Homo sapiens: one gene and its partner. The protein of the gene in region 1 purifies or fractionates together with the protein of each later gene. This does not show direct contact. Each region holds a gene or a part of one and is shown on either strand. Other genes may lie near its edges. The genes, in order: LSM11 and TAF5L.

Evidence for each region.
Region 2: the proteins of LSM11 (region 1) and TAF5L fractionate together in Homo sapiens (co-fractionation; one large-scale study listed by BioGRID). This does not show direct contact.

The regions. Positions count from the first base shown.
Region 1 is NC_000005.10:157,746,652-157,750,478, forward strand, and holds part of LSM11 (U7 snRNA-associated Sm-like protein LSm11), read left to right. Parts: intron 1-3,827. UniProt on the Homo sapiens protein: Component of the U7 snRNP complex that is involved in the histone 3'-end pre-mRNA processing. Increases U7 snRNA levels but not histone 3'-end pre-mRNA processing activity, when overexpressed. Required for cell cycle progression from G1 to S phases.
Region 2 is NC_000001.11:229,615,866-229,619,692, reverse strand, and holds part of TAF5L (TAF5-like RNA polymerase II p300/CBP-associated factor-associated factor 65 kDa subunit 5L), read left to right. Parts: intron 1-3,827. UniProt on the Homo sapiens protein: Functions as a component of the PCAF complex. The PCAF complex is capable of efficiently acetylating histones in a nucleosomal context. The PCAF complex could be considered as the human version of the yeast SAGA complex.

The DNA of each region.
Region 1 (3,827 bases):
GTAATCCCAGCACTTTGGGAGGCCGAGGCGGGCAGAACACTTGAGGCCAGGAGTTCAAGACCAGCCTGGCCAACGTGGTGAAACCCTGTCTCTACTAAAAATACAAAAATTAGTTGGGCATGGCAGCATCTGCCTCTAGTTCCAGCTGTTCAGGAGGATGAGGCACGAGAATCGCTTGAACCCTGTAAGTGGAAGCTGCAGTGAGCCGAGATCATAGGGACATCATAGAGACCTCTACAGAGGTGATACGAGGTCTCAAAAAAAAGTAATAATAAAAGTATAGGAGGCTGTTGCAATACTGGGAATACTAAAGAAGAAAAAAAGCATAGGAGGAAAGGTTTTTCGTCATCATTAAGCCTAAGCCATCACTGATACCAACAAAGAACTCACACACAAGCTGTACTTGCAAGTGGAATGCAATTGCTTTTCCTCCTTTTTAATATTGACATGCCTATAGAGATGGTAAGACAAGACTAAAGAGCATTATCCTCTTTTCCACATAATTCTAGTGTCTATATTTCTCCTTAGTATCGCAGCACCATACCTAGCCCACGGTGGTTCTGGTTTATAATTGTGCTTCAAGCAAGCTTTTTCTAGGTATATCTGTCACTGTGAAATGAACTGGTGTGTTCAAGCTCACGTCTTGACATTATAAAGCTGTAAGAAAAAGTGTTATCATTACTTTGTTTTAGCTACAGGTGTGTTGGTGTGCAGCCTGTGCCGGTGTGAACAAGTGTGTGTGGTCAATCCAAAATGCATATGACATGCAGGGTTTGGCTCCTAGACCATTGTCTAGGTGAATGGCTTGTCTCCAGTTCCAAATTCAGTTTTCCTGCAGGGAGCCTACACAGTCCTTTTACTCGCACACATCCTGCTGAGAAGGATTTCAAAACAAACCTGATTTATTGGGCCTCTGACGTGATACCATGATTGAAAATTTGTTTGAGTCCTGTTGTTGTAGTTTACTTTGATTGCTGAAATAATTTCCCACAATATGGTGTCTTGATGTTTTCATTTTAATAAAGTGATATTCTTTGGATAACTTTGACTTCACTTCCTGCAAATAAAGAGCAAGAAAATAGGCAAAATCAAGAACATCTGAGCCCTGTGTACAGCAGTAAAATGAACTCTCAAATTTGAACAGCATCTCTGTTACACAGAGGTTGCCAAAAGGGCATGAGTATGACTTACATAAAACCGAGAACAGCGGTACTTAGGCTTCAGAAAAGGCCAAGCTTAAAATTCAGCCTTGTCACTTTTCTCAGCTCATTGCAGCTGTTTCCAGTCAGCTGTCTCCAGTGCAACTAAGGAATAGTCTCAGATGATTTCTGCACCACACTGCTGTGTGTGTGTGTGTGTGTGTGTGTGTGTGTGTGTTTAGGCCAGTTTGACATAGCATCACAATAGGGAAGACACTGATGTGCCTTTGCCGGGTCACTGATTCAAACATTGTACTTTCAATCTGTCATGGCACCCTTCTATAGAATGGCAACTAAAACTATTTTCAGAGAAAAGAGAAAATATTTTTCCATTGCAGACTCATAAGGTGACTGTTACAGTTTGTGGTTTCATTTCTCTGGGCCCTTAATAGGTTATGGAATCTGGGGAGCTGCCTTTGCCCTAATGAGCTAATAACTTTGTATATTTGGAGATATATATGTAGATACAGTTTTGTCCTTAAATCTTTGAATAGGTAGTTGTGGAGGCTAAAGCAACTCCATCTTGAATGCCAGTCCACCATGTTGACTTCTGATTAAACCCAGTTCTGGGAAGGCCTCTAAGATTTCCAATTTATCTGTTGTTTCTTGTGTAAGAGCATGTACTTACTGTAATTCCTGTCCTTACATGAGAACAACCTTGACGTTATCTTACTTCAATTGTCCTACACATCCCTTCTGAATCACCCTTTCCCTGTAGCATATAAGCCCTGCATCTGGGGGTCATGGCACGGGGATCCACCATCTTGTTTTGCCGCCACCTGAGACGCAGACGTGGCTTCTGTTCCTACATTCCTATTAAATATTTCTTTCTAAGGAAAACAAGAGTTACTGTAAGAGGCAAGTTTTAGGTCTTTAAAGAAGGGCATGATTGAGAACAGTTATTTTAAAATCAGGCTGTGATGGTATAATTTACATGTAGCAGGAGAAGGAAGAGTGGAGCTGAAAATGACCTGGATCTGGAAGGATGTGGCAATAGAGAAGGGGATTGGAAGAGTAACTTTCTCCAAAGATAAGGCATATGCTTTTTTGTCATATTTGGTCATAGAAACCTGACTCATATCCATTTGGAGCTTGCCACAGAGACGGCTGGAAAGAGAATGTGCACTCTGATTCAGAATGGGGAGCTCATTTTTGCCTTGGCGGTTTGCTCTGATAGGTGGTGCTAGTGTCGTACTTTTGATCACACAAGGATACAAGGAGAGCAATGCTTCCTGGAATTACACCTTATTAAATCTTTGGAAGAAAAAAATTAAAGGTACACGTTTGAGAAAGACCAATTGAAAGACCTGAATTTGCCATCTATTTAATTAGAGTAAGAGACTGTTGCTAAGATACCTGCTTGCCCTTTCTATTTTTGGAGGTGTGGGAAAGAAGTAATGTCCCTGTTTTTTTCCAAGTTAGAAAAAAATAGTCTTTCCACTCTTTGTATAAACATACATCATAGGGCAGGGGGCAGTATATATGTATGTGTAGGAAAAGAAATAATGCAAGCATGTGATCAGTTTCTAAGAAATTGAGTTATTGGGACTTAGTCCTGAAATAAATCTACAAGTTAACTATCTTAACCTCATTTTATGAATGAGGAAATTTGGAACTTAAAGAAAAAGTTATTCATCAGGTTCACACAACTAGTTATAATGACCTGAAAATTGTTTACAATGCTTGAATGCTTGATTTAATATGGCCTATAACACATATACACGCGCGCGCACGCGCGCACACACACACACACACACCCACACACCCATACACACCCTTAGCTAGCAAATGTACAAAGGACTTTAAAATACTGCTAGAAGAGAGGTAAATGATGATGGTCAGACCAGAATTCTCATGGTCTTTTCCAAAGTCACTGCTTCGTGTCGCTTCCAACTCCGAGTTATTCTCACACCGTTAATCTGACATAAACTCCTGCTAGTCTGCTAAGTCATTTTCTTCTAAGAATCTTTTATTAATTTATCACAGCCATCATTTATAAGCCAATCCATGACAGAGGGATAAGGTGGCTTCAGGAGGAACCAATTTAGTTATCCAAACTGAAGTGCAGGACTGTTGTTCTCCTTTATGTCACTAGAAACAAAGCAGGAGAGATTTTTCATTTGTCTACTGTCAATGCCAAATACTCTATATATCCAGACTTCTAAGACCTGACCAAAAATAAACTTTCTACAGAATTTTGCGTTGCAAACTTGGGAAAGAGTGAGACTGTGTACGCACGAGAAAGAGAGAGAGATTGGGGGTGCGTAGTGCGTGCCTGTAGTCCCAGCTACTCAGTGGGTTGAGCTAGGGGGATCGCTTGAGCCAGGGAGGTCAAGGCTGGAGTGAGCTGTGATTGTGCCACTGCACTCCAGCCTGGGTGACAGTGAGACCCTGTCTCAGGAAAAAAGAATGTGTACGGCTTTCTTTTGGGAGGTTTTATATACCATAGCCAGCATATTGTGAGAGCTGAGTTAACATGAAATAATAAAAATAAAATTCATCTTTCCTCCCACGCTCTGAGAATCCTTCATAATAAAAGCTGAAATTTATAGTCTCAATATTCTTCCTATGAGTCATTATCCTGCTCTCTTCACATGATGCTTATTAGTAGTGTCATAGGAGCCAGAT
Region 2 (3,827 bases), on another chromosome or scaffold:
TCAGTAGCCCACTGAGGTCAGAAGCAGGGTCAGCTGGCTGGGTGAGGAGACTGGTGAAGGTTTAGAATAGCGTAGGTGGAAGGCTGTAGGGTAAGTAGTTGATGAAACAAGACTTCTGGAACATCATGGAGGTCCCAGCTGATGTTGGAGAAAATCTACTTCTCATGACATCTGTTTGCTGGATTTCGTGATTTCCACCTACTTTCTACCACTGCTGCCATCCCCACCAAAACGCCACATTCTTCACTGCGTCCTGAGCCCAGCTACGGCCTTATCCATGTGCCATTTTATTTCTTAGGACACCATGGGAAAAAACACAGCTTCTAGTTCAAGTGTATTTATGTCAGTCTGAGCAAAGATTGAATATGAAAGGCTATCATAATTTTTAAATTATATGAGGTATGACTGAAACTGAAAGTAGTATGGCTCATTTATTTTTCAGTTGTGATTTATATTTTCACAAAGCTTATTGAATACACTTTATCATGATGATTAATGCAAAGCTAGGGCTTTAGGTCCTACTTAGACTGATCTTTTGATGTTACAACCATTTAGTTGCTGTGAGTGAAGAGAACTAATAACTTGAGTTACCTAGTAGACACTTTACAAAAAAATGCAAAAAAATAATTTTTTTCTTCTGTTATAAACATAAATTTGCCATTGGAAAAAAGATACAATTACTCAAAAGCCAACAGTCAGAAGTCTCAGTTGAAGAGCTGATTTGAGGATTGTGTAGTGAGTTTGCCTGAATTTATCTTGAACTCACCCCTACTCAAAACTGCCACCTTATTGGGGCAGGGGGAGGGATGGGGGAGCCAGGTAGTACTCTTTTGGCATTTCGTGGAACTGTGTAGTACTTTAACCTGTGATATGGTGGATGAGGGTGCCTCCCAGCCCTCCTCTACCGACCGTGTACATTAGAGCCTAACGGGGGTGGGGGTGGAGGGATAGGATGCAGCGTGTAACCACTGAAGGGATTGACCAGACTAGAGTTCCACACTGACAGCATCTTAAGAGGATGCCTGGGTTCCATGTATCTCCACCTCCCCATGTTTCTGTAGTTGAATGTTAAGTGTGGCTGTGGTTTTCCCTGCAGAGTTGTTACATTGAAATGATCATGTGGGATTTTATATAGCAACTTGGTTGAAGTATCTGGCAACTGTTGATACATGAGAATAGATATACATTGTGTCAAAATCCTCCAGAAATTTTTGATTTCCAGAAATACCAATCTGGCAACTGTTGATACATGAGAATAGATATACATTGTGTCAAAATCCTCCAGAAATTTTTGATTTCCAGAAATATCAATAATGTGATATGAAGAGCAGAGTATTTGACATCTGTTTTTACCTCTGAAAGTTAAGTATTTTATATAAATTGAAAATGATGAGAAATTCTGAAATGTTAACAAAGAGTATAATTATATTTAAATCCAATTTCAGTTTGAAAGATTTTATAATTATAGGAAAAGCTAGGCAGGTAACGAAACTGCACTGTTCGTCTCATGTATGAGTCTCTCCAGAGACTTAGGTCTAGTTTAAGGAGAGTTTTTTTTCTTCACTTGTCCCTTTTTGGATATTAGTACTCTGGAAATCAGTCTGGGTGGAGGGGACCGATTTATCTCAGGTTCATTAATTATCCATGTCACTTGAAATATATGTACATTGGAATAAAACCCAGCTGAGTTGATTGGGTCGTGTCTCTAGTATTTGAGTTTAGCGTGGTTATGCAAGAGAGTCATTGCCAGAATTCCTGCCCTTAAGATCCATGGCCATACAGTTGATTCACCACCCACCCTCAGGGAAGCGCCCTTATCATAAATGGTAGTTTGGACTCAGAGAAATTGCTATTTGGGGCAGCTAATTTAAGCATATTTGTTAGAATCAGTATTACAGACTAGTTTCTAGCAATCTTAAATATGGTCAGTGTTGACTATCATTCATTCTTACTCCGTTCTGTTTACTCTTTCCTAACTTCACATCTTTTCCCTTCCTCCTCAGACACATAGGTATATTGTCGCACCTTGAGGACACTGTGTCATTGCAGAGCCTGTTCTCCAGATCAGTCATTCACATGTCTTTCACATGCAGAGTTTTTTCCTGTCAGAGGTGATCTAAGAGATCGAGGCCCATCTGCCTGGAATGCTCACGGATGTGCATCAATATTTGCATGCATTCCCAAGTCAGCAAAAGATCGGCAGTGTGGAAGCCGGAAAGATTTCAGTCTCAGCTAGAGTAGGGAATTGGGCTGCTTTGGGAAAGCCCGCAGAGTAGGAGATCTTGAAGTTAGATGAAAAGCAGCTGTAGCAAGTGATAGGAAGAGGCACTGGTTGGATTGACTCGTCTTGACTTTGGGCCACACGGGAAAGGACAGTACTGTCACAGCCTCCGTGTGCATTTAACTTTTTTACTCTAAATATAACACAACCAGAATCTGCAGGGCTGAAATTATTTATATACATATCCACACACTCATGGGATTCTTATGTATAGCCAGGTTGGAGGATCACTGATAGAGCAGTGCTGATCAGTGGCCACAGAGAATGGGAGCAGGGACCCCACTCTCAGAGTATCAGAATCCCTGTATTAGCAATTTAAAAAAACAGCTTAATTAAAAAGTAACCTAAGTCATCAATACAGTGAGAGAATAATACACCATACCCAAGCAAGGTAAATTTCATAGTGAGAAGAGAGTTCAGTATTTGGAAATTTATTATTGTGTTTCATTATGTCACTGATTCACAACCATAGTGTTCCTTCTTTTTAACAATCACACACCTAGTACCCCTTCTTTGTAACAAATATTTTGAACTCTTTGGCAACCTAGAAATAAAATGCACAGATAATGTAATCTTTCTGGGCATATAGTTTAATATATATATAATGTCCTAACATTTTATATTTACATGTATATATACTTGTGAGTATGTCTCTAGCCTTCACAGTTTGCTCTGTTGTATGACTTGTAGGGAATTGAAAAGTAGGTCTTCAGAGTATATTTTTAAAGGGCTCCCACAAATCAGTTTAGAAGGAAATAATTACTTGCAAATGGTATTGGGACAGTGTGTTAGCTACAGTCACTGGGCAAAACATTTGTTTGGTTATTCACCACACATACACTAAAAGAAACTGCAGATGGACGAAAATTAGATACAAATAATTTTTTTATGTTTAAAGAAAAATAAGACCAGGCATGGTAGCTCATGCCTGTAATCCCAACAATTTGGGAGACTAAGGAAGGAGAATTGCTTAAGCCCAGGAGTTTGAGACCACCCTGGACAACATAGCAAAACCCCTTCTCTACTAAAAAAAAAAATATAAATAAATAAATAGACTTCCGGAAAAGGTGGAATTTTACATCTTAAAAAAGAATGGAAGAGCAGGCACGGTGGTTCGCACCTGTAATCCCAGCACTTTGAGAGGCCAAGGCAGGCAAGTCACTTGAGGTCAGGAGTTCGAGACCAGCCTGGCCAACATGGTGAAACCCCATCTCTACTAAAAATTTAATAATTAGCCAAGTGTGGTAGCGTGGGCCTGTAATCCCAGCTACTCGGGAGTCTAAGGCAGGGAATCACTTGAACCCAGGAGGTGGAGGCTGCAGTGAGCTGAGATCATGCCATTGCACTCCAGTCTGGGTGACAGAGCAAGACACTGTCTCAAAAAAAATAAAACAAAATGAAAGAATGGTAGAACTCTCAAAGGAAAATACTAATGCATGTAACTGAAACTGAGAACTTAAAACACATCCAAATAAATGATCAAAAACAGATCTCCCACACAAAACAACTGGGAAACCTTGATTTAGAGAATGTTACTTTGGTTGGG